Homo sapiens: one gene and its partner. The protein of the gene in region 2 binds, or shares a complex with, the protein of the main gene of each other region. Each region holds a gene or a part of one and is shown on either strand. Other genes may lie near its edges. A codon is read from its position in the direction of its gene.

The links. The genes of interacting proteins can lie anywhere in the genome.
Region 1: the proteins of PTTG1 (region 2) and ESPL1 are in contact, whole or in part, in a cryo-EM structure (PDB 7NJ1), measured with the Homo sapiens proteins. Residues at the interface, in NP_001269311.1 of Homo sapiens: Tyr111, Pro112, Glu113, Ile114, Glu115, Lys116, Phe117, Phe118, Pro119, Phe120, Asn121, Pro122, Leu123, Phe125, Glu126, Ser127, Phe128, Asp129, Leu130, Pro131, Glu132, Glu133, His134, Gln135, Ile136, Ala137, His138, Leu139, Pro140, Leu141; in NP_036423.4 of Homo sapiens: His402, Thr405, Val406, Tyr409, Ser461 (codon at 2,183), Asn462 (codon at 2,180), Tyr465 (codon at 2,171), Tyr468 (codon at 2,162), Arg505 (codon at 92), Arg508 (codon at 83), Glu512 (codon at 71), Glu544, Thr547, Phe548, Arg551, Gln590, Lys593, Ala594, Val595, Arg596, Thr599, Gly600, Arg603, Gln634, Cys637, Tyr638, Trp683, Ile686, Glu690, Ile697.

The regions. Positions count from the first base shown.
Region 1 is NC_000012.12:53,271,166-53,274,914, reverse strand, and holds part of ESPL1 (separin), read right to left. Parts: intron 2,195-3,749; coding exon 2,058-2,194; intron 99-2,057; coding exon 1-98. UniProt on the Homo sapiens protein: Caspase-like protease, which plays a central role in the chromosome segregation by cleaving the SCC1/RAD21 subunit of the cohesin complex at the onset of anaphase. During most of the cell cycle, it is inactivated by different mechanisms.
Region 2 is NC_000005.10:160,424,786-160,428,534, reverse strand, and holds part of PTTG1 (securin), read right to left. Parts: intron 821-3,749; coding exon 662-820; intron 1-661. UniProt on the Homo sapiens protein: Regulatory protein, which plays a central role in chromosome stability, in the p53/TP53 pathway, and DNA repair. Probably acts by blocking the action of key proteins.

The DNA of each region.
Region 1 (3,749 bases), on a different chromosome or scaffold from region 2:
TGCAGGGCTGCCAGCCACAAAATCACCATCTTGCAGCCCTGGGCCTGTTTACCCAGTTTCTTCAAACTCTCTACTTGTAGCCGGAAGCACCTGTGCAACTGACCAGAGAAAGGGAACAGACCAAACTGGAGAGGAACCAGTGAGTGTGTATGGTGGAAGGGGATATGCATGCAATAGGTACATACACCACATGAGGGGGCGGGGTTGGCAGGTGGGCCTCCTGAGCCACACCCACCCAAGGCAGGAGACACCTAAGAATGAAATACTCTGAGTGCCTTCAACTCAGAGGCTGCAATCCACTCCACCCCTATGTTCATCATCCACACCCTTGAAAACCTGCTTCTCCTGTAATCCTTCTCAGCAAATGGCACTGCCTTCTCCTGAGTAAGAAATGTGGGGCCATCTCTGATGTTCCCTTCTCTCGCTCTCCCTCCCGCCAGTCACCTACCAGGTTAATCCTTGGCTTCTCGCACCGATCCACTGCATTCCATCCCTCGTGCAGCTGCTTCAGTTCAGCCCACCCTTCCCTGCCTAGAATACTATAGCAGCCTGATTACCCGGTCTTTTCTCCTGCACTCCATTCATCACAGCGAAGTCAGGGAAATCCAAAATGCCTGTCTGCTGTCATGCCTCCACTTAAATCCTTTAGAGGCTTATCATCTCAGTTAAGATGAAACCCAAGCCCCTCTATGACTCATCTTGCTTGCCAATCCCGCCAATGCATCAGTTCACAGGTATTCTTGCTTAAGAACACTGGTTCTTGCCCAGCGCGGTGGCTTGCGCCGGTAATCCCAGCACTTTGGGAGGCCGAGGCGGGTGGATCATGAGGTCAGGAGTTCAAGACCAGCCCGGCCAAGATGATGAAACCCCCGTCTCTACTAAAAATACAAAAATTAGCCAGGCATGGTGGCGCATGCCTATAATCCCAGCTACTCAGGAGGCTGAGGCAGAGAATTGCTTGAACCCAGGAGGTGGAGGTTGCAGTGAGCCGAGATCGTGCCACTGCACTCCAGCCTGGGTGACAAAGCAAGAGCAAGACTCAGTCTCCAAAAAAAAAAAAAAAAAAAAAAAAAAAAAACCAAAAAACCAAGAACCCAGGTTCTCACTCTCCTTGCTCAAAGGACCACCTGGGGGATCTTTGAAAATATTCAGATGTGAGATGGAGTCTTGCTCTGTAGCCCAGGCTGGAGTACAGTAGCACAATCTCGGCTCACTGCAAACTCCACCTCCTGGGTTCAGGCAATTCTCCTGCCTCAGCCTCCAAAGTAGCTGGGATTACAGGCACATGCCACCACGCCTGGCTAATGTTTGTATTTTCAGTAGAGACGGGGTTTCACCATGTTGGACAGGCTGGTCTCAAACTCCAGACCTCAGGTGATCCACCTGCCTCAGCCTCCCAAAGTGCTGGAATTATAGGCGTGAGCCATCACGCCCGGCAAACACTAGAGATTCTGATGCAATTAACTCGGGGCAGACATTAGAATTTTCTTAAAGGTCACTCAGGTGATTCTAATGTGCAGCTTGGCTGGAAACCAGTAGCTTAGGACCAGGCTAAATATAAAAAGTGAGTCAGGCCGGCTGCGGTGGCTCACACCTGTAATCCCAGCACTTTGGGAGGCTGAGGCAGGCGGATCACCTGAGGTCTGGAGTTTGAGACCAGCCTGGCCAACCAAAATGGTGAAACCCCGTCTCTACAAAAAATACAAAAATTAGCTGGGCGTGGTGGTGGGCACCTGTAATCCCAGCTACTTGGGAGGCTGAGGCAGGAGAATTGCTTGAACCTTTGCTGAGGCAAAGGTTGCAGTGAGCCAAGATTGTGCCACTGCACTCCAGCCTGGGCGACAGAGCGAGACTCGTCTCAAAAAAAAAAAAAAAAAAAAATGAGTCAACAGTAAGTAACAGTACAGTGAGGTTTGGGAAACACTGCTCCAGATACTGGTGTCAACATGCTGCTATTAACCTCCCACTCCAAGGCAGGGTGCTGGTGAGGCCCTTCCCCGCTCCCCCCGCTCCCCAACCACATAAGCTCCTTTCCTGCATCTCTCATTCCCTTGTACCTTCTCAGGAGGCACCTCGGGATAAGTGCCTGGCTTCACCAAACCCAGGTGCTGACAGAGCGGCTCAGAGATGGCACAGGCCTCGGCATAGAGCTTGTGACTATAGAAGCTGTAGGCCAAATTACTGGTGTAAGAAGCTGCAGGGGAGAAAAGGCACAATTGACCATAGGAAAGGCTCCCACCACCCTCTCCTCCTGGAGAGGCAGCAGAGATCAGCTGGATCTGTGGTCAGTTCAGCAGCTTCCAGATCAGACAGGAACCCCTACTGCTAGGAATGGGGAAGGGGCGGCTCTCCCCTTCCTGCCCCAAATAGGCCCATGCCCTTCACACCACTCAGCCCATCTGCACTCATTTTACAAACGAGACCCCCTCCTGCCTCAGCACTGGCTGTTTCTTCTGCCAGGGATGTTCTTTTCCAGGAACCCACATGGCTGACTCCCTCACATCCTCCAAGCCTTTGCTCATGTCACCCTCTCAATGAGGTCTACCCTGACCACCTGATTTAAGGTGGTAACTTGCCCCCCGTCATGCACCTTAGACTCCCAATTCCCTTTCTTATCCTGCTCTACTTTTCCTTTCCCCCACATTTCTTATCACGTTCTAATATGTTGATAATTCACTTATTTACTGAATCTGTTTATCTTTTCCCCCCAAACTAGAACGTGGCTCCATGAGGGAAGGAAACTTTGTTTTGCTTACCGACACATCCAAGTACTCCAAATAGTGCGTTGCACACAGTGAGTACTCAACAAATTTTTTTTTTTTTTTTTTGAGACAGAGTCTTGCTCTGTCGCTCAGACTGGAGAGCAGTGGCACGATCTTGGCTCACTGCAAGCTCCACCTCCCGGGTTCACACCATTCTCCTGCCTCAGCCTCCTGAGTAGCTGGGAGTACAGGCGCCTGCCACCACGCCCGGCTAATTTTTTGTATTTTTAGTAGAGACGGGGTTTCACTGTTAGCCAGGATGGTCTCGATCTCCTGACCTCGTTATCCGCCCGCCTCGGCCTCCCAAAGTGCTGGGATTACAGGCGTGAGCCACTGCGCCCGGCAACAAATATTTGCTGAATAAATGATAATAACTTATTTATGCAGCTTCTTGGCCATCAACATAGATGACTGGGAGAAAATAAAGTCAGTCTTCAGTACTCTGTGGGAAGAATTCTCCTTTTTTTTTGAGATGGAGTTTCGCTCTTGTTGCCCAGGCTGGAGTGCCCTCTTGCCCAGGCTGGAGTGCAGTGGTGCAATCTTGGCTCACTGCAACCTCCACCTTGCAGGTTCAAGCGACTCTCCTGCCTCAGCCTACCAAGTAGCTGGGATTACAGGCATGCACCACCTTGCCTGGCTAGTTTTCTATTTTTAGTAGAGACAGGGTTTCAGGGAAGCCAAGGTGGGCAGATCACTCGAGTCCAGGAGTTCAAGACCAGCCTGGACAATATGGCCAGACATCATCTCTACAAAAAATACAAAAATTAGCCAGGCATAGTGGTGCGCGCCTGCAGTCCCAGCTACTTGGGAGGCTGAGGCAGGAGAGTCGCTTGAACCTGCAAGGTGAGCTCGTTGCGGGGCTGAGGTGGGAGGATCGCTTGAGCCTGGGAGGTTGAGACTGTGTTGAGCCGTGATTGTGCCAGTGCACTCCAGCCTAGGTGACAGAGCAAGACCTTGTCTCAAAAAAAAAAAAAAAAAAACACTTAA
Region 2 (3,749 bases):
CATTAGCTGTCAATCAAAAATTCATGTTTTTCCCTTTGTCAAATCAATCACCTGCATCCCCTCCTGACACATTTTTTGGAATGTGTCTGTGGCCCCAGAATTGACTTTCATTAGGAAGTAAGTTTTAGAAGTATCTGAATCTCTATTGTTCTTAGAGACCAAAGTAAGAGTTAACAGTCTCACTAATGTAACTTATTAGGACAAATTATCCCACATCAGAACAAACAGAAAACATAATGTTGGCTTTGACTACCAGTTCAAACGAAGACCTCAGACCTTCTGCAGTAAGAAGTTATTGTCAGTCTATGCTACAGCACAGGTGTTTTGATCTTATATTAGCTTTGGATATAACATGGAATCATCATTCCAAGCAAGTTTATTATATATGCTTCAACTTATAGCCTAAGAAGATGTAAGTGAGAATTAATCTTTTGGCTGTAGTAAGACTATCCAGTTTCCAGAATAACAATTTTACTGGGGCATTTGGGACTGAAAAGCAATATTAATCGAGAATAGTTTATTTTTCTGAAAACTAATCCTTGTCATTTGAAGGACAGAAATTACTCACAGGCTCACCTCCCGCACAACTCTTCCCATGGTAATGGAAGTGTTATGAAACAAATTGTTTGCAGCCCTTCCAGAAGGGCACTTGCTCACTTACTGGATTCCCATGGTGGAGAGGGCATCTTCACAGGTGAAGGGGGGCCCAGCTGAAACAGCTTTTCAAGCTCTCTCTCCTCGTCAAGGATCATGAGAGGCACTCCACTCAAGGGGAGGTGCGCAATCTGGTGCTCTTCAGGCAGGTCAAAACTCTCAAAGTCTGTTACAGAGAGAAAGCGTTTTTGTCAGGGCAGCAGTTCTTAGTGTGGGCTGTAGATCCCTTGTGGTCTGAGACCCTTTGAGGGGGTCCATGAGGTCAAAACTATTTTCAAGACAATATTCACACCTTTTTCCACTGGGTTGACATTTGTAATGATGGTACCAAGGCAGCGGTGGAGAAAGCTGCTGGTGCCTCAACACAAATCAAGGCAGTGACAGTAAACCATATTAGCAGTCTCTCTGTTCTGCATCCTTCTTCGCTTGTAGTTTAAAAATGCCAGTTTCACTTACTGTCACTTCACCATATGCAGTAGAAAGTATTAATTTTATTAGCTCTCCATCCTTGAGATGTCTTTTTAATGTTCTGTGTGATAAAATGAGAAGTATGCCATAAAGCACTTCCACTGTACACCAAAATACGATTAAAAGGATTTGTGCAACTATATGAGTTGCAAGCTAAAACTAGAGAACATTTTCCTGGAATACTGTTTTTACTTGAATTAACAACTGCAAGAAATCCCATGGTCACTCAGACCTGGGTGCTTGTCACACTTTTTCTTAAAGGAATGAAAGAAGTCTATCACCTCAAGGAAAACTGACAGCCTTTGTTGCCAATGGCAGAATATAAAACGTTAAAATTTTGTCAAAAATTAAAAAATGAATATTTTTTTTTTGAGACAGAGTCTCACTCTTTCACCTAGGCTGCAGTGCAGTGGCACAATCTCCGTTCACTGCAACCTCTGCCTCCTGGGTTCAAGCGATTCTCCTGCCTCAGTCTCCCAAGCAGCTGGGATTACAGGTGCGCCCACCACACCCGGATAATTTTTGTATTTTTAGTACAGACGGGGTTTCACCATGTTGGCCAGGCTGGTCTTGAACTCGTGACCTCAGGTGATCCGCCCGCCTTGCCTCCCAAAGTGCTGGGATTACAGGCGTGAGCCACTGCATCTGGCCAAAAAAAGGAATTTTGGAAAACTTATCTGCAGTCATTAGCTTGACAGGTGCTTAGACTTTTCTGATGAGATCAGTTGTGGTATTAATGTGCTTTTGATATTGTATAATAAAGCATCTCAACATGTGGGTATCTACATATCTCAGTGAACCAGTATTTCTGAATGGTCAATGCAAGATAGATGCAAGAATATAAGATACATTCCAAGTGCAAAATAGACCAATGGATTTTACTGTCAAGATACAAAATGCTCATTGATACGGTTTCAGATTCCACATTGCAATTTTATATTCAGAAACAGCCACTTGTGGGTTTTAGTGTAGTGGCAAAAAAACCTATCCACACTTATCTGAAAAGACTATTAAAAACGTATCTGTGTGAAGCCAGGTTTTCTTCGTATATTTTAACAGATGTAAGAGTGAATATAGAATTTGATAAGAATCCAGTTGTCTTGTATTAAGCCAAATAAAGCAAATTTTCAAAAATATAAACCATGCCATTCTTCTCCAAACTTTTCCAGAACAAAAAATATTTTATGTTAAAAAAAAATTTACATTAATGTAATGTGATTACTTAGTGAATAAATATCTTAAGTTTCTCAGTCTTAATTTCTAATACAGAAAAGAGCAGATCACACAAGCAAAAGTGGTCTTCAATAATTTCTAAGAGTGTAAAAGGGTCTTTAAAACAAAACAAAAAAAAATGGAGAACCATTGTGTTAGGTAACATTCATTCTTAAAATCCAAGTACCTTACTTCTTAGCAATTATTTTTAAAAAGTGATTTTTCTGTACAGTAACAAAAGTAGGATTTAACACTGAATTTTCTTCAAGGAGCTGTTTTCTCAAAAGATTAGAAAATCATGGTTTTCCTTATCTTTGTCCGTAGGTGTGAAAGTTCTCTAAAGCCTAAGTACTCAAGAATTAGTCTGCTCTTTTACAAGCCTGGTAAAACCCAGAAGTCAAAAAGGAATTGAATGATATGTGACTATTTAACTTAAAACCACTGAATTGTAAAGGAAACCATAGACAGAAGACTCCAGAGGAAAGAAGTTTGCAATATAAGGGGAGCTAATTTTATCTACAAAGAGCTCTTTAATCAAAGAAAAACACAAACCGGAAGTTAATAAAAAAAGAAAAACTGTAAGTGGCCAATAATCAAATATGTTCACCATACACACAACAAATTTAAAACAATGAAATATTTCTTTTCTGATAAAGATTAGAGTTTTAAAACATTGATAGTGAACCTGGAGGAAGCAGACATCTTCATCCACTGTAGACGGATTTAACAATTTACACTATTTTGAAGGGCCACTTAGCAATATCTCTTTCCTGTAACACAGGATATTGTGGTCTTCATTCTTCATCAATATGCATAAATCTACCTCATTTTCCTCAATGGCTGAATGGTAATTATTAGCACGGATGCACCACATTTTATAATTTTAAAACTTAATCACACAAGCCCTTGAACTCAGCAATCCTTCTCAAAGTTTCCCTCCAGATGTACTCACAAACTTACAACAAGATCATTTCAAGAATACTAATCATAGAAATGTTTGTAGTTTCTAAAAGCCAGAACAATCTGAATGCAAATTAGTAAAATAACTACATGACCTCTTTGGCTAAATAAAAGGGTAAAAGATCCAGCTCAGAAATCCGTAAGGCCCTCCCTGATCTGATCCCACACCTCACCTGTATCCTCCTTTACCCTGCCTGTATTTTTCCTAGAACCACTTTAGTCTCTTTTCCTACCTCACGATCTTTGCACCACTTTGACCTACAATGCTGTTTTTTCTGGCTCACTCACAGTGAGATGACTTGTCCAGCATCTGACTTTCCCTTCAAATTATGGGCTCCCATAGGCAGGGCCCATCTTGTTAAACAGTGTGTCCAGGACCTAAGGATGCCTGACACACAGTAGCTTCTCCTGAAATGGTTGAGTAAATTAAAGCTTGAAAAGCTGTTTCCAAAACA